Linked DNA regions of Homo sapiens: all the other regions are reported to be linked to region 4. Evidence: microRNA targets listed by miRTarBase, many of them from high-throughput screens and not tested one by one. Region 4 holds a microRNA gene; each other region holds the end of a gene's coding sequence.
The links. The annotated mature microRNA hsa-miR-6513-5p reads UUUGGGAUUGACGCCACAUGUCU and lies in region 4 at 3,522-3,544, shown strand. An mRNA with a match to its seed (bases 2 to 7 or 8) in the 3' UTR can be bound and repressed. Matches are read on the target gene's strand: a 7mer-m8 pairs with bases 2 to 8, a 7mer-A1 pairs with bases 2 to 7 and ends in A, and an 8mer does both.

Region 1 (5,072 bases), not on the chromosome of region 4:
CAGCACTTTGGGAGGCCAAGGTGGGCAGATCACCTGAGGTCGGGAGTGTGAGATCAGCCTGGCCAACATGGTGAAATCCCATCTCTATCAAAAGTCAAAAAAATTAGCTGGCCATGGTGGCACATGCCTGTAATCCCAGCTACTTGGGAGGCTGAGGCAGAAGAATTGCTTGAACTTGGGAGGTAGAAGTTGCAGTGAGCCGAGATCATTCCACTGCACTCCAGCCTGGGCAACAGAGCGAGATGCTGTATCAAAAAAATAAAAAATTTTAAAAAGTTTCTGCATAGTATTCTATTGCATTTCTGTACATCAAGGCCTTTAAAATATATTGAAAATGGATATATAATTTACATACAGTAAAATGCACAAATATTAAATGTGACAACTCAATAAGTTTTTTGCCTTGCCTATGTACACATCAAAATAACCATTTCCCGGAACAAGATAGAGAACATTTTCAACACCCAAAAAAGTTCCAACATGCTCCATCCCAGACAAAACCCGACAGAACCGTATAGGTTACTACTATTCTGACTTCTAGCACCATGTATTAGTTTTGACTATTATTTAACTTCATATAAATGGATCCAGAGAATATGTATTCATTTGTGCCTTTTTTTTTGCATGATGTTGTTAATAACCTTTATTGTTACATCAGTTCAAACTGTTTTAGTGCTGTGTAGTAATTTCATTGTATGAGTCTACCATTATTTATAAATTCTCTTACTGATGAAAATTGGGGTTGTTTCTAGTTTTTGGCTATTAAGTTTTTATGAACATTCTTTTACAAGTCTTTTAATGTAAATACATGAGCTCTTTTCTCTTGAGTATATGGCTACAGATAGAGTGGCTGGGTCTTAAGGTAGAGATATACTTATCTTTATTAGAAACTGCCAAACTGTTTTCCTTTTTTTCCTAAAAGGTGTTTTTAGTCCTTATAATATTAACCTCTCTGGTGGGTATGTACTGGCATTTATTGTGGCTTAAACTTGTCTTTCCTGAATAAGGAATACTGTTGAGTTCCTTTTCATATTCTTTTGGCCATCTGAATTATTTTTTTTGTGTGAAGTATCTATTCAAGTCTTTTGCCCATTTTTAGTCAGTTTTTTGGGTTTTTTTCTTATAGTTTAAAGGAGTAATATACCCTCTGTCAGATATGTGTCAATGGTGTCTTTTCTGAGAAGTTTTAAGTTTTGATAAAGTCTATTTATCAATGTTTCCTTTTATGGCTAGTGTTTTCTGGGTTACAAGAAACCTATGCCTACCCCAAAGTCCTGAAAACATTCTCCCTTATTCTCTTCTAAATGCATTAAGGTTTTAGCTTTCACATTTTGGCCTAAGATCCATCTCAAATTATTCGTATATGGCATGAGGTAGGGATCAAGGTTATTTTTTTCCATATGGATAGCTATTAAAATTTTACTTTCCAACAGAATACATTTTATAATTCTCTTATGCGTTTTTGTTCCTGAGAACAGTTTAAAATACACCTTTAAATATTAATCTAAGTGAGGCTGCATGCAGTGGCTCACGCCTGTAATACCCGCACTTTGGGAGGCCAAAGCGGACAGATCACATGAGGCCAGGAGTTCCATCCAGACCAGCCTGGCCAACATGGCAAAACCCTGTCTACTAAAAATACAAAAATTAGCCAGGTGTGATGGCACAGTCCTGTAATCCCAGCTACTTGGGAGGCTGAGGGATGAAAATCACTTGAACCTGGGAGGTGGAGGTTGCAGTAAGCCAAGATTGTACCACTGCACTCCAGCCTGGGTGACGGAGTTAGACTCTGTCTCAAAAAAAAAAAAAAAACTAAGTGATATTAGGCTTATAGATTTCTCAATATATAATTTTACCATAATATTAATATTTTAAAAAAATTATCAAAGGTAGGACAATTAAGTAGTAAAAATAATATTCTGGACAAGTGAGTTTTACTTTGAACTTCAACAAAAGGCAGTTTATTTATAAATTCACCTGTCTTTAGTAATGCATGGTCTTTGTAGAAAATTTATAAATTAATTTACTATAATTTAAAAAGTTATTTTCTATAGCAGTTGAAATTTTATAATGAAATTGCACCTTTTGTCTTTGGCAAACAACCATGGATAGTAAAGTTTTAGGTATGATTTGACAAGAAGCATTCCATTTGACTAGAGCTGAATTTTCAAGTGGAAATACTATAATTGTCTTTAAGTATTTATATGTCTACAATGTTTGATGTTGTATCTCTTAGTGCTATCTAGCTATAATGGACATGATCACAGGATAAGTCTAAAAGAAGAGTAACTTTGCTGAGCATTCACTATGTCATTGAGCTAGATATCTCTACTACATGAATCTCACATAATCCTCACAACAACCCTACAAGAGAAATTTTATTCCCCCACCTCCACTTTATAGACAAGTGAGCCTGGAGTCAATGGCATTAAAGATTTCCCAAAGTCTATGGCTAGTAAGGGATAGAGGTGGGGCTGTAAAGAAAATCTGTCTGAATTCAAAACCCAAGATCTTTTCTCTATATAGAACTATGTTATTCTCTGGGAGAAAAATGGTTGATTGACAAAAGGCAAATTACATCTTTTAGGACATTCACTAGTAAATTACTTGTTAATAAATCAAAGCAGCAACATATTTTTCTGGATGTTTTTCTCAGGACTATGCCAGGCACTGTAAAAGATACTTAAGCATGAACCTTTGCCATAAAGGAATTTACAGTCTAGCTGAGGAGACATAGCTAACATGCACGTGTCAATTAGTGAAATAACTAAATAGTTAAGATTAATGGTTAAAGTAGGATCTAGAAACCATTGATGTTGAATAAATTTTTTAAATGAAGAACCGTGCTGGAGCACAACAAACTGACTTTTAGGTGGGACTGCATTATGAAGGGTCTTGAAAGAGGAAAACTGAGTAAAATTGAGTTTAAGCCCTTGAAGGTTTTTGATTTGGCATAAAGAAAGAGGTATTTAAGAAAGTTTTGGCTGGGTGTGGTGGCTCACACCTGCAATCCCAGCACTTTGGGAGGCCGAAGTGGGTGGATCACCTGAAGTCAGGAGTTTGAGACAAGCCTGGCCAACATGGTGAAACCCCATCTCTATTAAAAATACAAACATTAGCTGGGTGTGGTGGCGCACACCTGTAGTCCCAGCTACTTGGGAGGCTGAGACAGGAGAATCACTTGAACTGGGGAGACAGAGATTGCAGTGAGCCAAGATTACACCACTGCACTCCAGCCTGGGCAACAGAGCAAGACTCTGTCTCAAAAAAAAAAAAAAAAAAAAAAAAAAAAAGCCAGGCGTGGTGGCTCACGCCTGTAATCCCAGCACTTTGGGGGCTGAGAAGGGCAGATTATGTGGTCAGGAGATAGAGACCATCCTGGCTAACACAGTGAAACCCCGTCTCTACTAAAAAAATAAAAAATTAGCCGGGCGTGGTGGGGGGGCGCCTGTAGTCCCGGCTACTCAGGAAGCTCAGGCAGGAGAATGGCATGAACCTGGGAGGCAGAGCCTGCAGTGAGCCAAGATCACGCCACTGCACTCCAGCCTGGGTGAGAGAGACAGACTCCATCTCAAAATAATAATAATAATTATTATTATTATAAATAAAAAAAGAAAAGAAAAGAAAGTTTTGTTTAGCAGAAAAACTCAGATCTCTGAGTAGAATGTGAGGAATGAGCCGTGAAAAAAGTAGTTCATAAAGTTTTACTAGTAGAACAAGGACCTGAATGAAGGTGGTGGCAGTAAGAAACTTGGAAAACAAATGATACATAACAAAGACTAAAACTGCTCTCCAACAGTATATTGTCCACTATAAATCAGATACTATAGAAATAAGAAATATAAAAAAAACACTTAGCCACTAGCATGCTTCTCAATCACATGGAAATTCTAGATCTATCTAATTTAATCTACAGTTTCAGGAAATGGATTAATAGATCTTGATATGAGACAGCTGCTGACCCCTGTGAAAATTAAAAACATTTTAAAAGCCCTCTTCCTTTTTTGTTATCTCTAAAATAACCAGTTTTCTAGGAAAAAGGAAAAGAGTACCATATTTTTCATAATCTCTGTAATGCAAGTGCCAAGCACATGTGATTTATACCTGTTTTATGACATATGGATTCTGCCAATCATCTTTAGTTTATCAAAACTATTTTTATGAAGGGGTGCAGAGTATCATTTTCCTGAATTATTATTAGACTAGGCCACGTGTGTAAATAAATCTCTTCTTTCCAAATCTTTTATGTAAGTGCACTATTATAAGGACATATGCCCACAGAGTAAGCATACAATAAACGTTTCTTGATTAGATGACTTGGAACGTCAATCAATAACCATAATTTATATGGTAATTAATTCAGACCAATGGAGAGAAGGATTATGAAACCAAAACACAGGAAATAATTGAGAATCTTCTTCTTAGAGATTAACTTTGATTCCAATGGCTTGTTTAAATTCATGGTTTTGTGGTTCCAAGATGTCATAGAAAACTTGTTTTTTGTCAAAATGGTCTCTAATGTAAAGTAAATCTTCAACGGAATAGTTATCATTTTTTCCAGTCCAAATAGTCAGGCTGTACCTGCATTGAAATAAAACAGAATTATACAGTTAAAAGTGGAAGAAAGCGATGAGTCATTCCAATAAGCCTAAAAATGCTTTCATTTATCTCTAACTCAAATGCACTCAGATGAAAAAATTAATCAGCAATGGTGTAACTGTACTTTCATATTTCATTCTTTCATCAAGAGGGACTAGAGACAAAAAAACATTCATACTGCTGTTGTCTAAACGACATAACTGCTCTATCTGAATTGCAGGACTGTTAAATGGACTAAGAAACCAGATGAGTGGCATGGGAAATGGTTCTAATTTTGGAAAAAGGAATCGAAGAGACTATGTTGCTGATGGAGGAATCTGTAACCTGGGTTTGTTCAGGAGCCTGGTCAGGGTGAAAAGCACAATGGGAAGGGATTGTGAAGAGACACAAATGTCACTGACATCCACAATACTTAGAATCATATACGGAGGCCCTGCTGTTTCTTTTGGAGGTTTTTGTATGAGATACAAGAA
Region 2 (5,072 bases), not on the chromosome of region 4:
TGCCAATGCTGTCTTACTAGAGCTTCTGGAAGATACTGATGTCTCGGCCATTCCCAGTGAGGTCCAGGGAAAGGGGGGTGTCTGGAAGGTGATCTTTAAGACCCCTAATCAGGACACTGAGTTTCTTGAAAGATTGAACCTGTTTCTAGAAAAAGAGGGGCAGACGGTCTCGGGTATGTTTCGAGCCCTGGGGCAGGAGGGCGTGTCTCCAGCCACAGTGCCCTGCATCTCACCAGAATTACTGGCCCATTTGTTGGGACAGGCAATGGCACATGCGCCTCAGCCCCTGCTACCCATGAGATACCGGAAACTGCGAGTATTCTCAGGGAGTGCTGTCCCAGCCCCAGAGGAAGAGTCCTTTGAGGTCTGGTTGGAACAGGCCACGGAGATAGTCAAAGAGTGGCCAGTAACAGAGGCAGAAAAGAAAAGGTGGCTGGCGGAAAGCCTGCGGGGCCCTGCCCTGGACCTCATGCACATAGTGCAGGCAGACAACCCGTCCATCAGTGTAGAAGAGTGTTTGGAGGCCTTTAAGCAAGTGTTTGGGAGCCTAGAGAGCCGCAGGACAGCCCAGGTGAGGTATCTGAAGACCTATCAGGAGGAAGGAGAGAAGGTCTCAGCCTATGTGTTACGGCTAGAAACCCTGCTCCGGAGAGCGGTGGAGAAACGCGCCATCCCTCGGCGTATTGCGGACCAGGTCCGCCTGGAGCAGGTCATGGCTGGGGCCACTCTTAACCAGATGCTGTGGTGCCGGCTTAGGGAGCTGAAGGATCAGGGCCCGCCCCCCAGCTTCCTTGAGCTAATGAAGGTAATACGGGAAGAAGAGGAGGAAGAGGCCTCCTTTGAGAATGAGAGTATCGAAGAGCCAGAGGAACGAGATGGCTATGGCCGCTGGAATCATGAGGGAGACGACTGAAAACCACCTGGGGGCAGGACCCACAGCCAGTGGGCTAAGACCTTTAAAAAATTTTTTTCTTTAATGTATGGGACTGAAATCAAACCATGAAAGCCAATTATTGACCTTCCTTCCTTCCTTCCTTCCCTCCCTTCCTCCTTCTCTCCTTCTCTCCTCCTCTCTCCTCTCCTCTCCTCTCTTTCCTTCCTTCCTTCCTTTTTTCTTTTTCTCTTTCTTCTTTATTTCTTGGGTCTCACTCTCATCACCCAGGCTAGAGTGCAGTGGCACAAAAATCTCGGCTCACTGCAGCCTTGACTTCCCAGGCTCAGGCTCAGGTGATCCTCACACCTTAGCCTCCCAAGTACCTGGGACTACAGGCACGCACCACCATGCCTAGCTATTCTTTTGTATTTTTGGTAGAGACAGGGTTTTGCTGTGTTGCTCAGGCTGGTCTGGAACCCCTAGGCTCAAATGATGTGCCCAACTCGGCCTCCCAAAGTGCTGGGATTACAGGCATGAACCGCCATGCCTGGCCCTTGATTTTTCTTTTTAAGAAAAAAATATCTAGGAGTTTCTTAGACCCTATGTAGATTATTAATGAACAAAAGATTAAACTCCAAATATTAAATAGTAAGCCTGAAGGAATCTGAAACACTTGTACTTCCAATTTTCTTTAAATAATCCCAAATAGACCAGAATTGGCCCATACCATAGAAGAAAGAATTGGCAGTCAAAAAAAAAAATACCTTTTGTAATGTTTGAAAAATAAAGCTGTTTGACTTGTCAGGTGTTTTCCTTTCTCAAATCAGCAAATTCTCTCTGAGTGCCTGGCTTTGTGAGACACTGTACAAGGAGTTACAAGACTACAGCTATAACCTGCAGTTGAGCAGTTATAAACCTACAAAATGGGCCCTGCCCTCAGAGAGGTTCCAGTCTAGATGAGGAGCTGATCTAGACAGGTAAAAGGCTAACTAACCCTTTGTGTAAATAAGTTCATCACCCCAGTAAAAGTGTCATCACCCAGTGAATAGGACCACCTCTGCCTGCAGATTTTTGTTGTTGTTGTTGTCATTGTTGTTGTTGTTTTAACCTGGGAAGTGTTCTTCCTGCCTTTCTGCTAGGTGTCAGATAGATGGTCCCAGAGCTAGGTGCTGTGTCAGGCCCTGAAGACACAGATGACTCAACCTAAGCTTTACTTTCCAGAGGTCCACAGCCTGAGAGGTGTCCCCAAAGAAAGGGGGACATGAGGGGACTGCATGCTTGAGAGCAGGGTTGTTTAGGGCAGGTTTGGATTTAGTGAGCAGGCTGGTTTGCTTAGAGAAGGCTTTTAGTGGCAACAAAGGATGAAGAGGAGAGAAAAGGAACTCACATTTATTGAGGGCCTACTGTGTGCAAAGTGTTTCATGTATATCTCATTGAATGTATACAGCCACCCTGTTGTGGTATAATTTTGCTCTTTATAAAGAGAAAGACCGAAGCTCAGATGAGTTAAGTGGTCTCCTCAACACCAAAATGCCAAGAAGTGATGGAGCCTAGACAGAAGCCCAGAACTTTCTGACTCACACTAGTCCATCCTCTACCATCACGATGACTTTCAAATTGTGCTCTGCAGTTCTGCAGATTTTCTAGCAGTGCCATCTCCAAAATGTGTTTTAAACTCTTTATTTTTTTAATTATTATTAGTATTATTTTGAGACTGAGTCTTGCTCTATCACCCAGGCTGGAGTGCAGTGGTGCAATCTCAGCTCACTGCAACCTCCGCCTCCCAGGTTCAAGCGATTTCGTGCCTCAGCCTCCCGAGTAGCTGGGATTACAGGCACCCACCACCACGCCCAGCTAATTTTTGTATTTTTAGTAGAAATGGGGTTTCACCATGTTGGCCAGGCTGGTCTCGAACTCCTGACCTCAAGTGATCCACTCACCTCGGCCTCCCAAAGTGCTGGGATTACAGGTGTGAGCCACCATGCCTGGGCTAAACTCTTTAAGTCTCTAGTAAATGCAGCTAGATTCAAATGGGCTGATAACCAAATTTTAACACATCAGCATTCACCACCAGGTTTACTTTTATTTTCAGATTGGCTCATTTTGTGCAGACCTTAGAGCAAAGTTTCCTTTATGGTATCTGTGTACGTATCCAAACTTCTTTTAATTGTTCACAGATTTTAAAAGCGGTAGCACCACATGGTTGTGTAGATCAGACCTGTGTATTTAGATCAGACCTGTGTATCACGTAAGTGTGTGAGTGCAGTGCAGATGAGCACCATTTAGTTATATGTGCTAGGCAAATCTCCAACACAGTTGATGTGTAGTCTTGTGGTAGATTTGTGCATACTGTAAGCAAATTGCTTAGCTTCTCTAGACATCAGTTTCCACATCTGAAAAATAAGAAGATGAGAGTACACGGTTGTTATGAACAAATGACTTAATGCTTTTTAAGCACGTTGCATGACATCTGGAACACAGAAAGCCCTCAATACATTGAAGCTCTTAGGATTTTCACGATGTTCCTGTCTGCTCAATGCATGCTTTCTTTATTGTTCTGACAGTTGTGTGGTAACAAGCTAATATGCTTCCAGTTGACTTCCAGTCTACCCTGGTGTTAGAAACCGTTTCATCTCTTATTGTAAATTTGAGTGCTTGTTGTTTTTTATATTTGTGATGACTCTTCCAGCAGTTGTTGACAATTGTTAGAGGTTTGACTTTTAAATAATTACTTATTTTTTCTGATTGTGGTTCAGTTTAACTGAAGAATATCCTGAGATTGTAAGAAAAGCATTTTTTAAAAGGTATCACTTGTGATCATTTATCTTTCTAAATTCTATTTTTAATACTGTTCCACCAAAGTGATGCAGTGGTTACCATGACACCCTAATTTCATGTGTTTTTGTATTTATGAAAATAGTTTCATTGTCATTTATTGGCGGTATACAAAGTAAAATGTTATAAATGTGAAGTTATAAAATAAATATATGCTAATAAAATCCTGAGTTTTTCTGTTTCCTATATCGTGGTCTCTATAAAGTACTGCTTGAAGAAGGAGCTTTGTTACTGAAAAATTTTGAGAGATAAGTTGAGAAAATCAAGCTAAAGCCAAAAGGTCTTAGAATCCTGTAGGCAAGAAAACCTGAAAGCAAAAAAATGCTTGAACAAGAATACTTGAACTATGTCTCTGGGGACAAGGGAGAGCTCGGTCCACCCATTATCGATTTCTCTTTTAAAATATACAGAAACAACAGATGGAGGTCAGTTGCCTCAGAGACCCCCCAGCTCATTTGCTTAGGAAAGTAACTGTACAGATAAATTCCCAGACTCTATTCTGCCAAGGGTGAATGACCCTGAAGGTCGAATATTGCTTTTCTGGGCTGAAGTCACCCTTTTTCTTCTTCTTCTTCTTCTTTTTTTTGAGACAAGGTGTCACCCAGGCTGGAGTATAGTGGCACAATCTCGGCTCACTGCAAACTCTGCCTACCAGCTTCAAGTGATTCTCATGCCTCAGCTTCCCGAGTAGCTGGGATTACAGGGGTGCACCACCACGTTCCAGCTAAGTTTTTGTATTTTTAGTAGAGACAGGGTTTCACTATGTTGATCAGGTTGGGCTCGAACTCCTGACCTCAGGTAATCCACCTGTCTTGGCCTCCCAAAGTGCTGGGATTACAGGCATGAGCCACCGTGCCCAGCCTGAAGTCACCTTTTATTCTATGGAGGTATATGGGGGGAAATTCCTCTTGCCTTTGGCCTTCTTGAAATTGCTTCTCCTTCTTTTTTCTAAAGTGCAATGGGGGAGTATCTTTCACTGGGCCATACATCCTGCAGACCAGCCCATTAAAGAGGAATGTCCCAAGGGGGCCCAACGCCATCTCCCACTCACCCAAGCAAACTCTCCAAGGGGTGGTCTCATCCTATACTTCATACTTCTCCAGTCCTGACTCTCAAATACAGGCCCCAAGATTCTTGAATCACTGCTGAGGATAACTTTCCACCAGTGCTGTCTGGTGAAGACTGAGGCCATCAGCCTCCTGCCTTTTTAGGCCTTTGGTGTCACCTGCCATGCACCTGCACCCACCATGTCCACTAGGCCACCCCTCCTCTTGGGTTCTGCTGCCCATCCTAAATGCAAGACTTTGCTCAGCAGCTCTCGGCTTTGCTCTCCTTTCCCAGCTATGCCATGCTTCCAACTTAC
Region 3 (5,072 bases), not on the chromosome of region 4:
CAGGCACGGTGGCTCGTGCCTGTAATCCTAGCACTTTGGGAGGCTGAGGCGGGCGGATCACTTGAGGTCAGGAGTTCAAGACCAGCCTGGCCAACATGGTGAAACCCCGTCTCTACTAAAAATATAAAAACTAGCCGGGTGTGGTGGTGGACACCTGTAATCCCAGCTACTTGGGAGGCTGAGGCAGGAGAATTGCTTGAACCCAGGAGACAGAGGTTGCAGTGAGCCGAGATCACGCCACTGCACTCCAGCCTCAGCGACAGAGTGAGACTCTGTCTCCAAAACAAAACAAAACAAAACAAAAAACCCCCCAAAACCAGAAATTGATTAAGGGCCAGGCACGGTGGCTCACTGTGCCCGGCTTACAGGTGTAAGGCTCCACACACGGCCTAATATGGGTTTTGCCAAATGCGTAGTGCCAGGTATTCATCATTACAGTATTATACAGAAGAGTTTCACCACCCTAAAGATCCCTGTCCCTCTGCCCACTTTTTCCTCCATCCAGCTTCTGGGAGCCAGAGGAACCCAATAACATCCACGATGAGGACTGTGCTACCATGAACAAAGGTGGCACCTGGAATGATCTCTCTTGCTACAAAACTACGTATTGGATTTGTGAGCGGAAATGTTCCTGTTGAAGCCCAGGGCCGAGGCTGGGGGTCCATATCTGAGTGTCTCTTTGAGATGAGAATCTCCTGCCCTTTCGTGGACGGCCTTGCCTCTTCGTGAGTGGACACACAGATGTGCCTCAAACAGGATTGGCACCCTGGATGCAGCAAGTTCCCAGGGGTGCAAGTCAGGCTGTTTCTAGAGTGAGGACTTGGGCTTGCCCTAGTAGATGGTGAGCTGGGAGGATGCTCAGAGCTTGGTGGTGGGAGGTCTCCCACTTCTGGGGTTGAAAGGATCTTCACTAAGTTCCTGATCATGACTCTTGGGAAGTGATACTAGCCCTGAGGACCCTGGGGCTGGTGTTGAACCTGGGATGAAATATCCTGGCGCCTGTGAACCACAAAGAGCTGGGACTGGGCTCCTTTTCCTGCAGCCTCAAACTTCTGGGCTCAGGTGATCCTCCCATCTCAGCCTCCTGAGTAGCTGGGACTACACATGCGCACCACCATGCCTGGCCAATTTTTTGTAGCATTTAAAGAGAGGGAGTCTCACTATGTTGCCCAGGCCAGTCTCAAACTCCTTGCCTCAATGGATCCTCCTACTTGGGCTTCCCAAATTGTGAGGATTACAGGTGTGAGCCACTGTGCCTGGCTCAAAATTATTATTATTATTTTTATAGAGATGAGGTCTCACTCTGTTGCCGAGGCTGGTCTCAAACTCCTGGGGTCAAGCAATCCTTCCGTGATGGCCTCCCAAAGTGCTGGGATTACAGGCATGTGTCACCGTACCTGGCCGATATTTTTATTTTTATTTTTACTTTCCCCATCTTTTCCTTTTTTTTTTTTTTCCAAACAAAAGCTTTGAAAGTGGTGACAGAAAAATTTCCCTTTGAGCTAGACCTCTAGATCTGCCTCGCACAGAAATACATTAAGTGGGCTGGTCTCATGTAGTCCCCACATCATTGCAAATTACAAACCTAAAAATACAGAACATCAGCGGAGAAGACAGGAGAGCTTCTATATTCACCCCATGTCGTCCTCTCCAGACACTGCTTCCTTCCTGGTCTCAAACAGCACAAATAACCCAGAAACCATCAAAATTATTTTTGACCAGCAACTTTCTCAATGTCTTGGGTGAGGTTTGCACAAGCTAAGTGGCAGAATCAGACTTTTGCCAGAAGACTTGGCCCGTGGAACTTCTATCCTTTTTTTTTTTTTTTTTTTTTTTTGAGATAGGGTTTCATTCTACTACCCAGGCTGGAGTGCAGTGGCACAATCATAGCTTACTGCACCCTCTGCCTCCTGGGCTCGAGTGATCCTCCTGCCTCAGCCTCCCAAGTAGCTGGGACTACAGGCGTTCACCCTCACACCTGGCTGGCCCATGGAACTTCTAGAAAGGCATACCAGCTGAAAAGCAAGACCCCTACATAGTGTGGCCAGGCAGGCCATAACCTGGTCATATCCACACAGGACAACGATGGACCTATCTGCCAGCACGTGCCCTTGAGCTATCTGTGGGTTGTAACGTCTTTGATGATATAATTCACTTTACTTGCCAGGCACAGTGGCTCACGCCTGTAATCCCAGCACTCTGGGAGACTGAGGTGGGCTGATCACCTGGGGTCAGGATTTCGAGACCAGCCTGGCCAACATGGTAAAATCCTATCTCTACTAAAAATACAAAAAAATTAGCTGGGCGTGGTGGCATGTGCCTGTAATCCCAGCTACTCAGGAGACTAAGGCACGAGAATTGCTTGAACCCAGGAGGCGGAGGTTGCAGTGAGCCGAGATTGTGCCACTGCACTCCAGCCTGGGTGACAGAGCAAGACTCCATCTCAAATAAATAAATAAAAATAAAAATTCACTTTACTTCTGTGTGGACTTTCCTGGGCTATTAGCTCTTGCAATGTTAGTGCTTCTCAAAATGCCACTATGTTGGGTGTTCCTTGTCTACTGTGTGTTAGTTTGCTGGGGCTGCCATAACAAAGGACTGGGTGGCTTCAGCAACAGAATGCATTTTCTCACAGTTCCGGAGGCTGGATGTCCAAGATCAAGGTGTTGGCAGGGTTAATTTCTTCTGAGGCCTCCTGTCTTGGCTTGTAGATGATCCTCTTCTCCCTGTGTCTTCACCTGGTTCTCCTTCTGTGTGTCTGGGTCCTAATCTCCTCCTCCTCTTCTTTTGTTTTTGAGACAGGGTCTCGCTCTGTCACTCAGGCTGGAGTGCAGTGGTGTGATCTCAGCTCACTGCAACTTCCACCTCCCAGGCTTAAGCATCCTCCCGCCTCAGCCTCCTGAGTAGCTGGGATTACAGGTGTGCACCACCGTGCCTGGTTAATTCTTGTATTTTTTGTAGCAACGGGGTTTCACCATGTTGCCCAGACTGGTTTTGAACTCCTAGGCTCAAGCAATCTGCCCACCTTGGTCCCCCAAAGTGCTGGGATTACAGGCATGAGCCACTGTGCTGGGCCTACAACGACCACTTTAAAGATCCTGTCTCCAAATACAGCCATATTAGGAGGTCCTGGGAATTAGAATTTAAACATATGCATTTGGGAGGGGTGGCACAATTTGGCCCATAACATTCACAAACTGCCAGAGTGACCCCCACCCGACCCTCCTGCCCTGGCCATGTGACAACCAAAAAATACCAATTAGAGGGCTGGTACTACTCCCAGCTAGGCATAACTCAACATAGTATTCCCTTTGGACAATCCCTGAATTGCATCCAAGGGTGGGTAGACATTCTCCAAACCAATCAATTTATTTTTTTTTTTTTTGTGACAGAGTCTTGCTCTGTTGCCCAGGCTGGAGTGCAGCGGCGTGATCTCGGCTCACTGCAACCTCTGCTTTCCAGGTTTAACTGGTTCTTCTGCCTCAGCCTCCTGAATAGCTGGGATTTCAGGCACGTGCCACCATGCCTGGCTAATTTTTGTATTTTTAGTAGAGACAGGGCTTTGCCATGTTGGCCAGGCTGGTCTCGAACTCCTGACCTCAAGTGATCCGCCCACCTCAGCCCCCTAAAGTGCTAAGATTACAGGCGTGAGCCACCATGCCTGGCCTTATTTTATTTTTTGAGACAAGGTCTCACTCTGTCGCCCAGGCTGGAGTGCAGTGTTGTAATCATAGCTCACTGAAGCCTCAAACACCTGAGCTCAAGAAATCCTCCGTCCTCAGACTCCTGTATAACTAGAACTACAGGTGTGCCCCCACCACACCCAGCTAATTTTAATTTTTTTTTTTTTTTGTATAGACAGGGGTCTTGCTTTGTTGCCCAGACTGGGCTTAAACTCCTGGTCTCAAACAATCCTCCTGCTTCAGCCTCCTAAAATACAAGGATTGCGATCAATTTATTGATCAATAAGCTCCCTTAATCAATAGCAGAATCTTTCCTGTTTTGTCTGAGAACAGGTGCTTATAGCAAGGAGACTGTGAGGAGAGCAGGTGGTGGGAGAGGTCGGAGCTGATTTCACTTCCTGTTTCTTTGATTTGTTTTAAATCTACTTGTTCTTTTATTTCGTTATTAAAAAAATTTTTTTTGAGATGGAGTGTCACTCTGTCACCCAGGCTGGAGTACAGTGGCATGATCTCGGCTCACTGCAACCTCCTCCTCCTGGGTACAAGCGATTCTTGTGCCTCAGCCTCCTGAGTAGCTGGGATTACAGGTGTGCGCCACCACATCCGGCTAATTTTTGTATTATTAGTAGAGACGGCATTTCGCCACTTTGGCCAGGCTGGTCTCGAACTCCTGACCTCAAGTGATCCACCCGCCTTGGCCTCTCAAAGTGCTGGGATTACAGGTGTGAGCCACTGCACCCAGCCTCGTTATTTATTTTTAAGAGATGGGTTCTCAGGACGTGGCCCAGGCTGGAGTGCAGTGGCATTTCACAGGCACGACCCCACTACTGAGTTTTGGTTCTGTCTGTCCTCTCTTCTCACCTCTGCCCACCTCTGCAGCTGCCCTGATGCATCACTACCAAAGCCAGCTCCTGTACTGTCCGCAGCCTGCTGAGTGGGTGGGTGTCGTGTTGTAAACCCTCCACCCAGGGGACTGTTATGTCAAGCAACTTTATCTGGGGTCAGGGGAAGTTCCCACATTTCAGAAGAGGGAAGTTGTTTTCTGATATGCGTATTGAGAAATGGGGAAGCAGGGGTCTGTGGTCACGTCTCTAGGAGGCCCCTGGTGGAACTGGTCCCAACCTATCTCCCTTCCACATCTCTCATGATTATCTAATTGCAGAGAGGTAAATATGAAAGAGGTCACTTTTTACCACTTTAGGTCCAGGGGAGCAACAGTTGGATAAAAATAATAACCATGGTTTATCAAACATATATTGTGTGGTAAATAAATGCAGTGGCTCTCATTGAATCTTCACCATGACTTTGTGAGGTTGGAATATTTACCAACGCCCGCCAATCTTTTTTTTTTTTTGGGCAGAGTCTCACTCTGTCTCCCAGGCTGGAGTG
Region 4 (5,072 bases):
AGAAGAGATAAGACAGTCCTTTATTTGATCCCCGAACTATGCAATGTGCCCTAAAAAGAGACGCTGGTCTCTCTTGCTTCCAGCAGAGCCTCTGAGAGCCTCTGGTGTCTGCTGACCTGCATCTGGGGGTGTCCTCCTTGGGGATCCTAAAGCCCCCTGTAGATGCTCTAGAAGAGGTGGTGGCCCTGTCGAGCCCAGACTGCCAGGGCTTGTCCTTACTGGGGATGCAGGGGCCCTCTAGGGGCTTCCTTAGCTCCTCCTAAGCCTGCATCTCTGCTACCTCAGAGGGGACCACCAGGCCCAGAGGACAGTAACTGGCAGAGGAGGCATAAGAGCACCGCATAACATGAAGGACCTGGACCCAGGATCTGGAAGGCCTCCGTCCTGGTTATGCCACTGACCTGCGAGTTCTGGGGTTCTGGGGAATCACTTCCCTGTTCAGGGCCTGCATTCTCTCATCTGAAGTGAGCATTTGGGGCTTATGGCCCTGAGGTCCCTTCCAACTCCAGTTTGGGGTTCCCTCCCCCTGGTTTCTTGGCCCTCCCCTGGCTATGGGGCTCTTCCTGCTGCAGGGAAGGCATTCCCTTGACCTTGTGGCCTGACTCCTCAGCTCTTTGTCCTCCCTGCTAGCACTGCACCTGGAAGACAGGTAGAACTCACAGAGAGCCTGGGATTCAGAACATCTGTCTCCCCCTCCAGGGTGGGGGTAAGGGGGAGGGCGAGGGGCCGTGCACTCACTCTCTCTTCCCTAGCAAGGCCAGAGAGCAGCTGTGGTCGCAGGCTGCCGCATGCCTTTCTGACACGCCACCGCTGTTATTTGAAGGAACCAGAAAGTCCTGTCTCAAGCTGGCCCTTTGGCACAGCCTCCCTGCCCCCAGCCCCTGTACCACCCACTCCTGCTTCTCAGGCTTCCTGACTCAGCCTGCCACTGGCCCCCGGGTCCCTGGATCCCTTCCTCCTCGGGGCCTGGCAGCTCTGGCACTGGGGCTAGCTTGTTTTCCTCCACTTCTTCCCCCGGCTCTCCACTTTGAGCCTTGGCTCCAACCCAGCTCTGGCTTCCAGGCCTGGCATCCCCGTCAGCTGTGGCAGGGGCAGAGCTGACCCTTTCAGAGGGTCCCAGCTGGCCCTGTGAGTCGCCAGGAGGCTGTGCCTGGCCCATCTGGCTTCTTCGCTGGTTCTGCCATCAAGCCACCAAAACTGGAAGGTTTTCTTAAACCACAACAGGGAGTTCCCAGGCTCCCTGGTTCCCTCTCTCCTCAGCGAATCCTTCCTCCTGCTTTCCTATGGCTGGGGAGCTGCACAGTGAGAGGCCTGTGGACAAGAAGCAGGCGCAAAGGCAGGAGGGACAGGAGCCCAGTTGGTGGGGAGGTGGCCTGTGGACAGCAAATCACACGCTGCCCTCTAAGGAGAAAATAGGTGGTGTTCCTCTCCACGGAGGCAGCCTGGACAAGGCTGGAAGTGGGCCCATGAGGCTGAGTGAGCTGGGCCTGGGCATTCACGATTGCTTTTCTCCTCTCCCATTTCAGGTCCCAGCAGCTGGGGTTCCCCCTCAGCCCGTGAGCAGCCATGTCCAACCCCAGCGCCCCACCACCATATGAAGACCGCAACCCCCTGTACCCAGGCCCTCCGCCCCCTGGGGGCTATGGGCAGCCATCTGTCCTGCCAGGAGGGTATCCTGCCTACCCTGGCTACCCGCAGCCTGGCTACGGTCACCCTGCTGGCTACCCACAGCCCATGCCCCCCACCCACCCGATGCCCATGAACTACGGTGAGTCCTGGAAGGGCAGATGGAAGGTGGGTGGGAGGGACAGCACTTGGAGCAGATGAGGCCACCGCCTCCTGCCCCTTTTCTCTTCTAGTTTCCCTTAAATCCCTTTCTCATCTTCTCTGTTGAGATCTCTCCCTCTGTTTCTGTCTTTGTTACCCTCCACTTTTTGCCTCAGCAACTGGCCCCCAGCCACTTGCTGCCCCCTTTGTTCAAGGAGATCCATGAGGCATGTCCCAGAACGTACACACCACAGGAGAATGGGGCTGGGCCAAGTAATGACTCCTGAGGGGTTACCTCAGGGCACCAGCTCTGTTTCCCAACAAGCGGCCAACAAGCTGCTGCCACCTCCCAGACCTGTCGACTTCCTTAGGAACTCCTTTGGGAACCTGAACCACTTTCCTCATCCTTTAAAGTGAAATCTGACTTTTGCAAAAGACATTTGGAGCCAAGTTTGGTAAACATCATGGCAGGGACATGCTTGTGTTTGGTCAGAAATGAGGTGAGGCCGGCCGCGGTGGCTCACGCCTGTAATCCCAGCACTCTGGGAGGCTGAGGCGAGCAGATCACCTGAGGTCAGGAATTCGAGACCAGCCTGGCCAACATGGCAAAACCCCATCTCCACTAAAAATACAAAAACTTAGCCGGGTGTGGTGGCGTGCACCTGTAATCCCAGCTACTCAGGAGGCTGAGGCAGGAGAATCGCTTGCAATCCCAGGAGGTGGAGGTTGCAGTGAGCCAGGATCGCACTACTGCACTTCAGCCTGAGCAACAGAGCAAGACTCTGTCTCAAAAAAAAAACCAAAAAAAAAACAAAAAACAAAACAAAACAAAAAAAGAGGCCGGGTACGGTGGCTCATGCCTGTAATCTCAACACTTTGGGAGGCTGAGATGGGCGGATCACGAGTTTGAGACCAGCCTGGCCAACATGGTGAAACCCTGTCTCTACCAAAAATACAAAAAATGAGCCGGGCGTGGTGGCATGCGTCTGTAATCCCAGCTACTCAGGAGGCTAAGGCAGGAGAATTGCTTGAACCCGGGAGGTGGAGGTTGCGGTGAGCCGAGATCACGCCTTTGCACTCCAGCTTGGGCAACAAGACCGAAACTCCATCTCAAAAAAAAAAAAAAAAAAAAAAAGGAAATGAGGTGAAGTTAGAGTGCAGTGAGTCTTCCTGGGTGGCTCAAGCGTGGATTTTAAAAGTAGTTCCCAAAGAGGCATTCAGGCATTCAGGCATTCAGGGAATGTTTGCAGCCCTGCAGCATCTCTGAACCCCAGAGGGGTGTCAGCCAGCTCTCACCTGGACATGTGCGCTGGTGCGGATCTGCGCATGGGTCCTGCACAGTCACGCACACCCTTTGCACACCTGCCTCTGTGAGGCTGATGCAGATCCCTGTCTTCACCTCTATCCCTGCTGCTGCACAAACTGCGCTCTGCCGCCCTCCTTTTCTCCTACCCTCTGTCCCCATCCCCTGTTCTGCCCTGGCTGGCTGCCCCAGTGGATGCCCATACCTGCTCCTGCCTGGCTTCCCCACTACATCGTGACCCCCCAGTGAACCCCCAGTGGCGTGGGCTGGGCACACAGGAGCCCTCCACAGATGCACGTGAGGAACGTTTCCCACCTAAGCCCCCTCGTGACAGGCCGGCTCTGGGTCACTCTGAGGGTGTCTAGAAGACCCCAGCTTGGGAGAAGAGTTCCTGTTATAACACTTGTCTTTTGGCTGGAGATCCCTGAGACTTTGAGATTGTCAGGGAGGCTTTGGGATTGACGCCACATGTCTCAGGTCCCCAGCTGAGTCAAGTGTCATCTGTCCCTAGGCCCAGGCCATGGCTATGATGGGGAGGAGAGAGCAGTGAGTGATAGCTTCGGGCCTGGAGAGTGGGATGACCGGAAAGTGCGACACACTTTTATCCGAAAGGTAAGATACGCGCTGGGAGGTGGGTGTACCTGGGGCCCCTCAGGCTGTGGGAATGGGAAGTGGGTAGGCCACAGTAGCCCCAGGGCATCAATTCCATGAAATACACTGGCTGCCTGTCTTCTCTAGCCTTGTCTGCTTCTCAGAGGGGCACCTGGCTTCTCTAACCCCAGGGTTCCCTCTCTTTTTGCACCTCTCTTCTTGACCATGTTTTGGGAGGACACATTCAGTCTGGGAGAATCTCCTAGGTGGGTTCTGCCACAGCGCCCGCCTTCCCCAGACATCTTTCTCCCTTTAGACTATAGGCAGCTTGGAGCCAGAAATGATCCTACTCGCTTGTAACCCACCCTCTCCATCTCACAGCTGCATAGAGCGTGCAGACTGAGCTGCTGGGAGTGCAGAGGCCATACTGGTAGAGTATGGTGGCCAGGCAGGGCAAGTCAGTAGTCACCGAGGCTGGTGTTGGACAGGAGGGGAGATGGCAGGGAGCATGGGAGCGGGGCTGAGGAAGAAGTGCACATTGCCTCTGAGCCAGGCATCTCACTGGGGTCGCCTCTGGGCCAGGCTGCAGCTAGGGAGGGTTCTTGAGTGGGAGGAAAGTACTGGGGGCTGGCAGCTTCCTGGGGCAGGCCAGGGGTGCCGGATGGTGACCCATGCCCGGCCGTCTGTGTCCAGGTTTACTCCATCATCTCCGTGCAGCTGCTCATCACTGTGGCCATCATTGCTATCTTCACCTTTGTGTAAGTCTCTAGGCTTTGCCACCCACTCCTACTGCCCTGGGGGTTCAGGGTCACCTGCTGGGGGTGTGGGTGGCGGTGGGCCCTGCTCTCAGGGTGACCATGGGCAATTAGAGAAGGTGAAGCCAGGGCTGCCTGGCTGGCCTGGGTGGGGCAGACAAGCCTCAGGGTGACTACTCCTGTCCTCCTGTGCCCCACAGGGAACCTGTCAGCGCCTTTGTGAGGAGAAATGTGGCTGTCTACTACGTGTCCTAGTGAGTGTGTGCTCCTCTGTGGTTGGGCAGGGAGGCAGGGGTGGCAGCTTCTGTTTCTAGGTGACCAGCTTTGCTCAGGGCAGGATCAAAATGCTTTTTGAGAGGGCCCCCAAGTTGGTGCCAGTTTCCCGTGCCAGAGGGTGTGGGTGTGCGTGCCCAGATGAGTAGCAGACCCCTAGAACTCGAGAGCAAGAGTGGGACCTGCTGGTGGTGGCGTGCACGCTGCGCTGCAGCCCCCATGTCCTCTCAGCCCGTCAGCTGCAGCCTCCCCAGACCTCCTTCCTGGCCGGAGCCTGGTGCTTCAGAGCATCTCAGTGACCCTGGCTGGGGGTAATCTCGTTCTTGCTTCCTGTTGAGTTGCTTCCCCTCAGACTTCCAAACGGCTATTTGGGCCCCAAATCA
Region 5 (5,061 bases), not on the chromosome of region 4:
ACCTCTGTGCATGTGCATGTGTGTCAGCATGTGTGCGTGTGCATGTGTGTGCACGCGTGTGTGCACGTATGACTGTGCGCACGCGTGTGTGTGTGCGCGTGTGTGTGTGTGTGTGCATAAAGCCAGAAGAAATTTCTCAGGTTGCAAGTTGTGTCCTGCCAGCCAACAGTCAAGGTAATTTTGAGGGAAATAACATAATCAGCTTTTTCTACAAGGAAAGGAAGCACATGAAAATATGATGAAATAGGTCAAAGAGTGGCCAACTTATTTCCATTTCCATTTCCTGGAAAAGCTCCAGGGACTGAAAGTCTTGAGGAACTGTATCTGTAGTTTTGTTTGTTTACTTGTTTTATTGTATCTCTTAATGTTTGCATGGTTTTTAAATCTAGATTTAACAGTAAAATTGCATTAGTGTTTGGTCAGTTACATTTGTACTTTAGATTGGGGTTTATAACAAACATAATGTTTATAATTTAAACGTAAAATACATTAACATGAGATCCTGGCACTTACAATCTTACCTAGGAGCCTAAAATTCAAAGCCAAGGCTCTAGACACTCATTGGAGAATCTCATCCTTTAAAATTAGATCAATTGCAATATTTCTAAAGAATGAATCCTGCACTCTGTATATGTGAGACTTATATCAAGTAGCCTGACCCTTGAGAGAGATGCACCTGTCTTGTCCTTTATTGCCTGTGAAATCCCAGGCAAGTCTGTGGGTAATTTGGCATTTCTGTTTTGCTCATCTGCCGAAAGAAGTTGTTGGAGGTGACTCTTCTCTTTCTCTCTCAAGCTGTTGTACTTCAAACCCTTTGGTTTCTGGCTTTCAGATCACCAATAATTGAGGTGAAATAGCTGCAAACAGACTGGCCACTTGACTACTTAGGGATTTGATTATTATTATGATAGAAATAGGTAAGGAGTTATGAAACTGACTTTATTTCTTTTCCTCCTGGGGTGAGCAAAAGAGCGGAGGAGTAAATAAAATATTTTTATTGCCAAGACTATGTTGATTTTTTTGGCCATCCCTCATTCACATTTTAGTCAGTAGGAAAAGTTCCCTGGGTCTAATAGCTAAATCTCTGAAAAGGGGGTAAGGAAATGGAAGAAAAGGATTAATAAATAATAATATTTATTGAGTACTATGGTGTGCCAGACCTGCTAAAACCTTTTAAGATTACCTCACAAATCTATAAGGTCTGTATTATAATTATGACCAGTTTAGAGATGACTGAAAAACTGAGAGAAGTAGTGGTTTGCCTCAAATTCCCCATCTAGTTAGTGGCACAGCTATACCAGTTTATTTATAGAGTCCCTATAAATCCCAGTTAGCCTGGGACAGTCCCAGTTTACATCTTGAATCCTGAAGTAATAACGAATGGTGTCTCCTGTTCCATTTCAAAAGTGGACTACACAAATTATATGGTCACTCTATCTCAAGGTTTCTCAATCTTGATTTGAGACATTGACATGTTGGGCTGTAAGATCCTTTGTTATAGGGGGCTGTCCTGTGCATTGCCAGGTGTTTCACAGCATCGTTGCCCCCTACCCAGTAGATGCCAATAGCACCCTCCACTTCAAGTAATGAAAAGCAACAATGACTTCAGACGTTGCCAAATGTCCCCAGGAGGGCAAAATTGCTCCTAACTGAGAACCTACAGCATCTAAAGCTTATATTTATACAAATTTAACTACAAAAGGACAAAACAATCTATTTGTCACAGCTGAACCTATGCAGTAGTGTGGCTGGCATACACCCTGTACTCAATAAAAGTTATTTCTTTTTGTACAGATGGGATCTCGCTATGCTGCCCAGGCTGATCTTGAACTCCTGGCCTCAAGCCATCCTCTGGCCTTGGCCTTCCAAAGTTCTGAGATTACAGGCAAGAGCCACTATCCCTGACCTAAAAGTTCATTTCTTTGGGGTGTCACTTGGCTTTCCAATTGTAGAGAGGTGCAAGGGCTAAACAAGTAATGAAAAAGATGCCTAGAAGGGCTCTTGTGATAAAAATGGGTTTGTTGCAATTCTTATTAGAGAAAACTGAAATAGTGTAACTACAAAGTGACGCAGCAACCTCCTGGCTGCCCATTCTAATGATATGAAGTTTGAATCTTGATTCCACTGGGGCTTTTGCCTTAGTAATGGACATAAAAGCTAACGTGATAAGAGAGTGTTACAGTGAGTTTCATACTGCAGCAATCTTCTTCAGTATTAATTGCTTATCAGTGTTCTATTTCCTCCTATTCTTAGAAATGACCACCATTTCTTTCATACCACCATTTTCATTTATTAGCAATAACAGAGGAAATACCAATAGCACCAATTCAAAATGAATCCACATGACGTGTTTTATCCTTACAGCTGTAATAACTAGTAACTAACATGGATTGGAAAGCACTTCGCAAATGTAAAAAGTGCTGTACAGATACATTATAATTATCATCATTAATAAATTAGCCCGATTCTCCTAGTTCAAAAGGCACGTAAGGTCAGATACATGGGCTTCAGTGGGGCAAAATGATCACAACCTACAATGTAGCAATGGTTCACATGTGTTGGTAACAAGTTTTACCCCATGCAATCCTGCAGAGCTGAAGTTACACACCCTTCAAAATATGGGAGAATGAAGCTAAAAGTAGACAAGACAGTTTTTTTTTAAATTTAATGCTTTTTTTAAATAACAGACTCCTACCTCTTTTATATTAATGCCTAAATAGATAATATAATTAATCAAACTTCTAAATTGTACATTATAACAAAATTAAAATGTCTTATTTAAGGTGACAGCAAATTTTGTTACTTTCTATGAGCTGATATTTCAGATACCATTAGAATTTCAAAGCATTCTGCAACTTCAAAGAGGTCAGATTGGTAAAATTTGTGCTTGCACACCCTCATGGAATATTGTCAGTATTCATTCCAAAATTGTTACTAGAACAAAACAGCTTTATCCATTCCCTTGCCAGCAGAAGTCTTGGCACGAGATGGCTCTTGGCTGGACCATAAATAAAATTCCTTGAATCACCAGTATCTTGATTTAAGAAAGAAATTTTACTGTGTCTTTCATACACAAAAGCTGATTAACAATGGTTAAAAAAACACTACTCCACTTTTTCACAGGTGTACAAAAGGAAATATAATGGAATTACATTCAACAATAAAGCTTAAAGTTCACTCTAGGTAATAGTTGCATTAACATTCACATACACAAGCACAGAGTAAGTATATTTCAGGAGTCTTAGCATAGCATACAGCATACATATGGGAGATTGATTTCAGGTAACATCATAGGTGTTAGTAAGATTAGCAATTCAGAGTGTTATAGAAAAGGAAAACTAAACCAAAGAGAAGGTGTAGGCTAGCACACCAAGACAAGTCACAGAATTAGTAGATTGAAAAATCTGCTCACTGTATGAGAAAACAATATTTTTCTTCAATTTTTGGGTCTTGATATATAGTTGGTTAGAGAAGGTTGTGTATCAAAGTGCACATAATTGTTTCTTAGAAAAGAGAGAGAGAGAGAGAAAGAGAGATCATTTTATTTAGTAATACATGCAAGAGGCAGCCCCAGAGTGACCTGAAAGAGTAAAGCTGTGATTGGCAGGTGGCCGATATAATACAGATGTTTCAGGCAATTCTCTTAAAGCACTTCTGTAGCAGCAATGATCATTTAAATGGCTGTAGACTGAATTCTCTTTTGAGGAGAGTTTAGGGGAATTGTATTCATATTTCTCTTTAAAGATTTATAGCTATAGACTTTCTCTTTTTTTAAATAAATCTATGAAACAACAAACAGCGAAAGGTGAGGTGTCGGGGTTTTCTTTTGCTTTTGCATAAGTATTGGAAAAGGATCTGGCCTTTTCATAAACATTGTGTGCAAAAGAATTTTTAATAAAGTGAGCACAGGACATGTATAGGAAACACATCAGATCTGCTTCTGTTTCCCAGGGTGGTTCTCTGTTAAAACACTGAACTGTTGGCTTGCAGGTATGATGCAGATTTTAGGTATAATGACGTCACAGCCAACAGACTTTAGGGTCTCCTAAAGCCTTGTCAGTGGGGGTAGTTTTGTCTCCTAGAGGGTGGCTGCCACCTCTTGAGTTGTAAGATTTAGAAAGTCTGGTCCCTTTAAGTTTACACTTCCCCTCCATACTGATAACTTCCGCTGTTTATTTGTCTTTGTTTTCTTGCCTTCCTTGTACCAATTAGTCTAAGCTGGCTCGTCTCAGCCAATATCTGGCACTCGCATACCCGCGGTAGCCACACATACCCAGTGGCCACAAACTCCCAAGCTGCTCAATCTCAAAACTTTTCAGCCTGCCCTGCAAGTGTCATCAAGACAGGATCCCCGGAGCACAGGGCAGAGAGTCCAACCTCTCACTGGCGGGGCTGGGAAGCCTCTCCTTTGCGGCGGAGGAGAAAGGAAACTTGGGTCTGCTTTTTAGGTTCTGAAAACAAGCCAGAGTGGAGAGAAAGAGTTAACACCAGACTTAGTAAAGCTTTTACGACAAAACCTGTTAAATGCGTTCTAGACAGACACAGGGAACTTTCTGCAGATTTCTGAGGTCTCTAAGAGGGCTCATGTAGATAGGAAAAAGGAGCAGGGAATTGCTACATGGGAGAGATTTGCCATTATTACAAAAACTGGCTAAGTGGCTTGTTTCCATTTGAGGACCTCACTGGTCACTGTTGTCAGTCGTGCTGTTCCCTTTCTCTTTTTTCTCCTGGGTCTTGTTACCCTTCTTCTTTTTCTTCTTTTTCTTGGTCTCCTCCTTTTTGCCGAAGGTTATGAAGTCACTTTTGTCAATTTGGCTGTTAGTAGGCTCCTGCCGGATGGAGATGATTGCAGGAGATCCTGGGATAATGAATTTGTCGGGCAACTCACCGGGACCGGATTGTTTGGGGTTGCCTGGTCCGTATTTAAAGGTCCAGCTGTTGCTGTTGACACCCGCACCGACTGGAGGGGACACTTCTCCTGCCTCTGGTTCTGAAAGACAAAACATTACAAATCATTAACAGGGTCAACACATGCTCTTGATGCCACACTGCTGGTAGAGT
Region 6 (5,072 bases), not on the chromosome of region 4:
CCTTGGGGAGAGCCTGTGGGAGGATTCTCACCTTGTCACCAGGCTCTATCTTCCTGCGTGGGCACTGAGACCCAACAGAAGAGCGGAATTTCCGCCCCTTCCCAGGGCCTGGCTGTACCTTAGTCCATCCACCCGCGCTCTGGTCTTTGACCTCCTCATCCCACAGTGGCTCTATAGTCCCAGCTCTGACCCCTCCCATGCCTTGCACCGTTCTCACGGTCAGTGCAATTGGTCCAGGTGGAGTTGGGGGCAAGGGTGTCAACCCCCAAAGCCAAGACCTGAAGGAGAGGGGGCAGGGCCTAGCTCACCTGGGGGACGGAGACACAAAGCAGCCACAGCCAGGCAGGGACCATGGTCAGGACAGGCCTGAGGGACACGGCAGTGAGGATCCAGCCCAGGTGGGTAGGGAGGGGCTTTCCATCCCACACACACAACTAGTGGGATCGTACTGCAGACTAGTCTTCTCTTCCTCCCCTCCAAAGGAGCTGAGGCTCTCCATCTCCTGCAGGGTAGTGCCCTGCTCCTCGGCCAGGCCCACCAAGGCCCCCAGGCCCAGCCACCCTGCTTCTAGGCTCTTGGTCCATCAAGCACTCTATCAGAATTTCACCTCCAGACCTCCAGCTCCTTCTCACCATAGCCTCCCCAGGCCGCAGATCCCAAAGTGGTAATTTTCTAGCAATCCCCCAAATCACAAAAGTTTGAAGCTGGAAAGTTCCTGAAGACTTGGAGGGTCACTTCCTGAAGTCACCTCTTGTTGCAGGCAAGGCCTGAATGCTGGGGTCTGGCCAAGGTCACAGAGGACTTGACCACAGGAGGAGTCCTCCTAGCTCAGGGCCTCTGGGACTGTCCTGCCTCCCACTGCCACCTTCTAGACAAGGAGAACCCCCGGAGCAGGAGCCCGGCCCTTGTCTCATCATTTTCCAGCCCTTGTCATGGAGCTGGGCAGGCAGAGCAGCGACAAATCGACAACCCCTCTAAGATGAGGCCCTGGGAATTCTTTCCCAGATGGCGAGGACAGGGCAGTGTTTCTCCTTTCCCCACCACCAACCTCAGCCTCAGCCATGCCCTCCCCTCCACTCCCAGCCCCTCACCCTCCAGCGCCCAAGACTGGCTCCCTTGGTCCAGCTGCCAAGCAAGAAGAGAGCTCCTTCTCCAGGGGGCTCTGGCCAGGCTGGGCTGGGTGGGGCAAGGCAGGGCACTTGAGCAGGTAGGAGGGTTCAGCCACGCTTGCTCAGGAGTGGAAAAGGCCACTGGGCCCACAGCAGCAGGCCTGGCCCCGCCCAGCCCCCCAAGTTACTCATTGACTTTGGAAAGCCAGGAGCTGCTCAGCATCCGTGACTGCCAGCTCCAGGAGGTGGGGAGATGGTTGGCCTGGCACTCCCTCGACCCCAGCACAGCCCAGGAGGTATTCCTTGGCCCTCTGGTTCTGGACGTTACTTTTTCTGTGGCTCCAGACTTGGTCTGACTTATCTCCCAGGCTCCAGTGTCTGCAGCCACACCTTTTCACACTCTGTTCCTTTTGCATGGAACACCCTTCCCACTCATTCATCTGTGTGGTAAGCACCTGCTCATGCATGCTTCAGTGCTCAGCTCAAATATTCCTTTTTCCAGGAAACTTCCCCTATGTTCCCAGGCTTGTTCAGGAGCCTCCTCTGGGAATGCCCCTCCCCCTCACACCATGCCATGTGCTATCTCTATTAATACACAGAGGACACCAGCTTGTCATTGTCTGCCTCTTCCATTAGATTGGGAGCCCTTTGAGAGCAGAACTCAGGGACTCAGGAATGACCTGGCTCTCATTCTGCCCTGGCAGCTCCGCATGGCTTGTGGAACTAAGACAAGGAGCTGGAGGTTGCAAAGGATGGGTGAGCAGTACATGAGTGGAAGTGGGTATTGGGGCTCCAGACCACCCCCCCCAGGGGGACCTGTGGTGGGGGAGTGCAGCAGCCTATGAGCTCCCGAAGTCCTTACACTGGCCACTCAACAGTGACAGGGCTGAGACAGTGGGCAGTCTCATGCCCCTAAGAAGATTAAACTGGCTCAGGTGACCTTGAGGGAGTTGCAGGGCTGAACAGGGGCTCTCCCCGCAATGAGGGCAGCCAAGCAGAGCCAGGAGATGCTTCTGGGGCCTGGGAGTCTGGAATGAGGGGAGAGGGTGGGAAGAAGGTCTCCAGTCCCTCTCCAGCCTTGGAGCTTCCCATGGTCCCCACGAAGTCCTTCCCACTGTACATCTGATTAGTCTCTCTCAGGCCAGAAGCTACCCCCAGCTGCCCCCAGCCTTGTCACAAGCTGAGTGCCTGCTTCAGGGTCACTCTGGCACCCAGCCTGGAGCAGTGTAGTGTGGGGAGGTTGAAGGGGGTTTCACACGTGTTAAGCTCCTGCTCTGTGCCCAGCACTGCTCTGAGCACATACCTTCATTATGCCACATACTGCGTTCTGAAGGGGCATTGGGCACATGCTGGGGCACAGAGAAGCTGAGTGGTTTGCCTAGGGTCACACAGTCAATAAGTGACAGAGCCAGGAAGGCCTGGGGACCCTCACTTGATCTGAAAATACCATGCCTTCTGCATTCCTTGAAGTATGTGGGGAGGAGGGGCAGAGCAGCAACAGCTCTGAGCAGTTACCTCTGCCCTGGGGAGCACGTGGGTGAATCTCAGCGCTCCCCTGTACATGGAGGGGCAGCCCTCAAGCCTCCTCCTGCCATTCAATAAGCTGCAATCAGGATTCTAACCAGGTTGCCAGGGCTCCCTGGAGTCTGTGGAATGAATAAATTGAATAAATTGAACTAAGGAAGGAATGTATGGACCTTGGCCCAGAACCTTCTTAGAAACTGCCCCCCACCTTGCCCCAGGCTGCCTCCAGGCTTTGGAGATGGGCAGACCTGTATACCAGTCCCCACTCAGCCACTTCCCACCCAGCACCAGATGGGGATGGTTTTTCCTGAGACCATGTAGATAAAAACTCTTAGCAGCACTTGTGCCGAGGGTGAGGGAATGAATAAATTGAATAAATTGAACTAAGGAAGGAATGTATGGACCTTGGCCCAGAACCTTCTTAGAAACTGCCCCCCACCTCGCCCCAGGCTGCCTCCAGGCTTTGGAGATGGGCAGACCTGTATACCAGTCCCCACTCAGCCACTTCCCACCCAGCACCAGATGGGGATGGTTTTTCCTGAGACCATGTAGATAAAAACTCTTAGCAGCACTTGTGCCGAGGGTGAGGGAGCCATGGGCATGGGTGGGCAGGGAGACAGGTGCATCCCTAAACATAAGCACGAGTACACCTTCCTATACAAATGCAAGACCTCTCATTCCAGGCAGGGCGGGCTCCCGGCAGCTGTTCCCACCAAAACTGAATTAGCCAATGCTGAGCATGGAATGTTCTGGCCTGGATACTCATGGTAGAGAGAACAGTGAGTGCCTCCTCCGTAGCTCAACCCCAGTGAAGTGGTGGAGGAGCCATGTGGAGCTGTGTGTGCCTTCACAAACCACCCCTCGGAGGTCTCTATCCCCAACCTCAGCTGATTCCAGCCCCTCAAGAGGGAACAGGGCAGAAATACCAGCTGTGGAGCCAGATCCTGTCTGGTTGTGAGACCCAGGGTTCCTGCCTGGTTGTGAGACCCAGGGTTCCTGCCTGGTTGTGAGACCCAGGGCAGAATGTGCTCCCCTGAGCAGCCTGTTTCCCTTTATGGACAGTGAAGTGATTGAACCCTCAATCAGTTGGGCAACGCCAGGCCCCAGTGCAGAAAGAGAAGAATCTGGATAACAGGGACTGGGAGGGGTTTGTGTCTCCTGCTCCTTGAACCTCTAACCAGACCCGATGCCCATCCCAGCTGGCTAAATCTGGACCCTCACATTAACACATCATGGCCACACACTAGGGTGGGGCAGTGAGCCCCCATCCCTCAACTTCAGAAATCCTTCCAGCTCCTGAAGCGCCCAGATAGGAGGAAAGAGAGTCAACAGCCATGACTATCAGGAAATAGCCTTTATTACAAAAATCTGCATGTAAACAAATAGCTACCGCACTGAAGAGCCTCCCTCCAGGGCAGGCACACCCGGGCTGTGAAAAAAGGCAGAGTCCTCTCCCGGCACGCAGGCCTGCCCGGCGGCTGCGCTGCGGCTGCTTGGGACGCATATGAGCCTGCGCATGCATCTCTGTGGGCCCAGCCCTCACTGGCCCCTGAGAGCCACTTCGCAGGGCAGCACTGTCTATCTGTCCATGACCATGAGGTTGGGGGTGCCCGGCTGGCAGCTCCGAGGGACCCAGAGTCTGAGCCTGCTCTGAGGCACCCGGGGCAGTTGGCTGGGCCAGCCCACCAACCCTTCCGTTCGTCTCCCACCATAGTGGGAGCGGGTGGGACCTAGAGAACCGAGAGGTCGTGGCAGGACTTGGATTTGGCGCGAAAGGCCATCTTGCGGCTGTTACGAGCTACGATGCGGCCCAAGAAGCGCTTCGCCTTTTTGCCAAGGCTCTCTCGCCTCCGGGTGCCTGCTTGCCGTCGTGCGTTGGCTTCTTTGCTGTCCCTGCGCAGGCGTATCTGGCGCACGACACCTTCAAACAGCGCCTGGACATTGTGGTGCAATGCCGCTGATGTCTCAATGAACTTGCAGTCAAAGACCACCGCGCAGGCCCGGCCCTCTGTGTGGGTGGGGAAAGGCAGGCACCAGTAAACAAAGGGTGGGTGAATGAGGAGTCCCCTCCAACAGTGGCCACCCATGGAAGCTGCCACTCGAGAATTTGCAAGGTCCTCCCCGAAAACACAGAGACCCCAGCTCCTGTACTGAGGGTACTGGGCACTGCTGCGTCACCCAGTAGGCAGAGTGCCTGCATTTAAGGAGCCCCCAAAACAGTGGCCCTCAAAAGGAGATCCATTTATTGAAATAATTTGAAGCCTGATATTTAAACAAAGTACGACAGTAGTAAACACAGGAAAATGAGAACTATGTTGGACAACTTAGTATTTTATTTTATTTTATTTTATTTTTCTGAGATAGAGTCTCGCTGTCTCCCAGGCTGGAGTGCAGTGGCACAATCTCTGCTCACTGAAAGCTCCGCCTCCCGGGTTCACG

Region 1: the mRNA of FAM151B is a reported target of hsa-miR-6513-5p. The part of its 3' UTR that is shown has no 7-base or 8-base seed match.
Region 2: the mRNA of PNMA2 is a reported target of hsa-miR-6513-5p. Seed matches in the 3' UTR shown: 7mer-A1 at 1,384-1,390, 8mer at 1,573-1,580 and 7mer-A1 at 2,822-2,828.
Region 3: the mRNA of CLEC17A is a reported target of hsa-miR-6513-5p. Seed matches in the 3' UTR shown: 7mer-A1 at 1,219-1,225 and 7mer-A1 at 1,360-1,366.
Region 5: miRTarBase lists PCDHA6 as a target of hsa-miR-6513-5p. The part of its 3' UTR that is shown has no 7-base or 8-base seed match.
Region 6: miRTarBase lists RRAD as a target of hsa-miR-6513-5p. The part of its 3' UTR that is shown has no 7-base or 8-base seed match.

The regions. Positions count from the first base shown.
Region 1 is chr5:80,541,182-80,546,253 of GRCh38, reverse strand. It overlaps FAM151B (family with sequence similarity 151 member B), which reads right to left. Exons shown (of 6, transcript NM_205548.3): 6 at 3,691-4,581. The coding sequence ends at 4,422. Among named protein-coding and RNA genes, the nearest start is that of ANKRD34B, 27 kb to the left of the region's middle.
Region 2 is chr8:26,503,502-26,508,573 of GRCh38, reverse strand. PNMA2 (PNMA family member 2) reads left to right here. Exons shown (of 3, transcript NM_007257.6): 3 at 1-3,873. The coding sequence ends at 913. Among named protein-coding and RNA genes, the nearest start is that of PNMA2, 7.8 kb to the left of the region's middle.
Region 3 is chr19:14,609,559-14,614,630 of GRCh38, forward strand. CLEC17A (C-type lectin domain containing 17A) reads left to right here. Exons shown (of 14, transcript NM_001204118.2): 14 at 506-2,477. The coding sequence ends at 638. It also overlaps a transcript of ADGRE3 not described here. Among named protein-coding and RNA genes, the nearest start is that of SNORA104, 10 kb to the right of the region's middle. RefSeq lists a silencer at 4,668-4,717.
Region 4 is chr2:218,278,636-218,283,707 of GRCh38, reverse strand. MIR6513 (microRNA 6513) reads left to right here and starts at 3,520; the gene lies at 3,520-3,583. All of the region lies in intron 2 of PNKD (PNKD metallo-beta-lactamase domain containing), which reads right to left. TMBIM1 (transmembrane BAX inhibitor motif containing 1) reads left to right here. Exons shown (of 12, transcript NM_022152.6): 2 at 1,527-1,768; 3 at 3,582-3,682; 4 at 4,355-4,419; 5 at 4,617-4,670. The coding sequence starts at 1,567.
Region 5 is chr5:141,009,556-141,014,616 of GRCh38, reverse strand. It overlaps PCDHA6 (protocadherin alpha 6), which reads right to left. Exons shown (of 4, transcript NM_018909.4): 4 at 2,270-4,990. The coding sequence ends at 4,680. It overlaps PCDHA1 (protocadherin alpha 1), which reads right to left. Exons shown (of 4, transcript NM_018900.4): 4 at 2,270-4,990. The coding sequence ends at 4,680. It overlaps PCDHA2 (protocadherin alpha 2), which reads right to left. Exons shown (of 4, transcript NM_018905.3): 4 at 2,270-4,990. The coding sequence ends at 4,680. PCDHA3 (protocadherin alpha 3) reads right to left here. Exons shown (of 4, transcript NM_018906.3): 4 at 2,270-4,990. The coding sequence ends at 4,680. It also overlaps PCDHA4, PCDHA5, PCDHA7, PCDHA8, PCDHA9 and PCDHA10, and 7 more genes. Among named protein-coding and RNA genes, the nearest start is that of PCDHB1, 39 kb to the left of the region's middle.
Region 6 is chr16:66,917,713-66,922,784 of GRCh38, forward strand. RRAD (RRAD, Ras related glycolysis inhibitor and calcium channel regulator) reads right to left here. Exons shown (of 5, transcript NM_004165.3): 5 at 3,973-4,641. The coding sequence ends at 4,364. It overlaps CDH16 (cadherin 16), which reads right to left and starts at 1,173. Exons shown (of 18, transcript NM_004062.4): 1 at 1,092-1,173; 2 at 309-366; 3 at 1-13. The coding sequence starts at 353. RefSeq lists enhancers at 3,930-4,453, 4,454-4,977.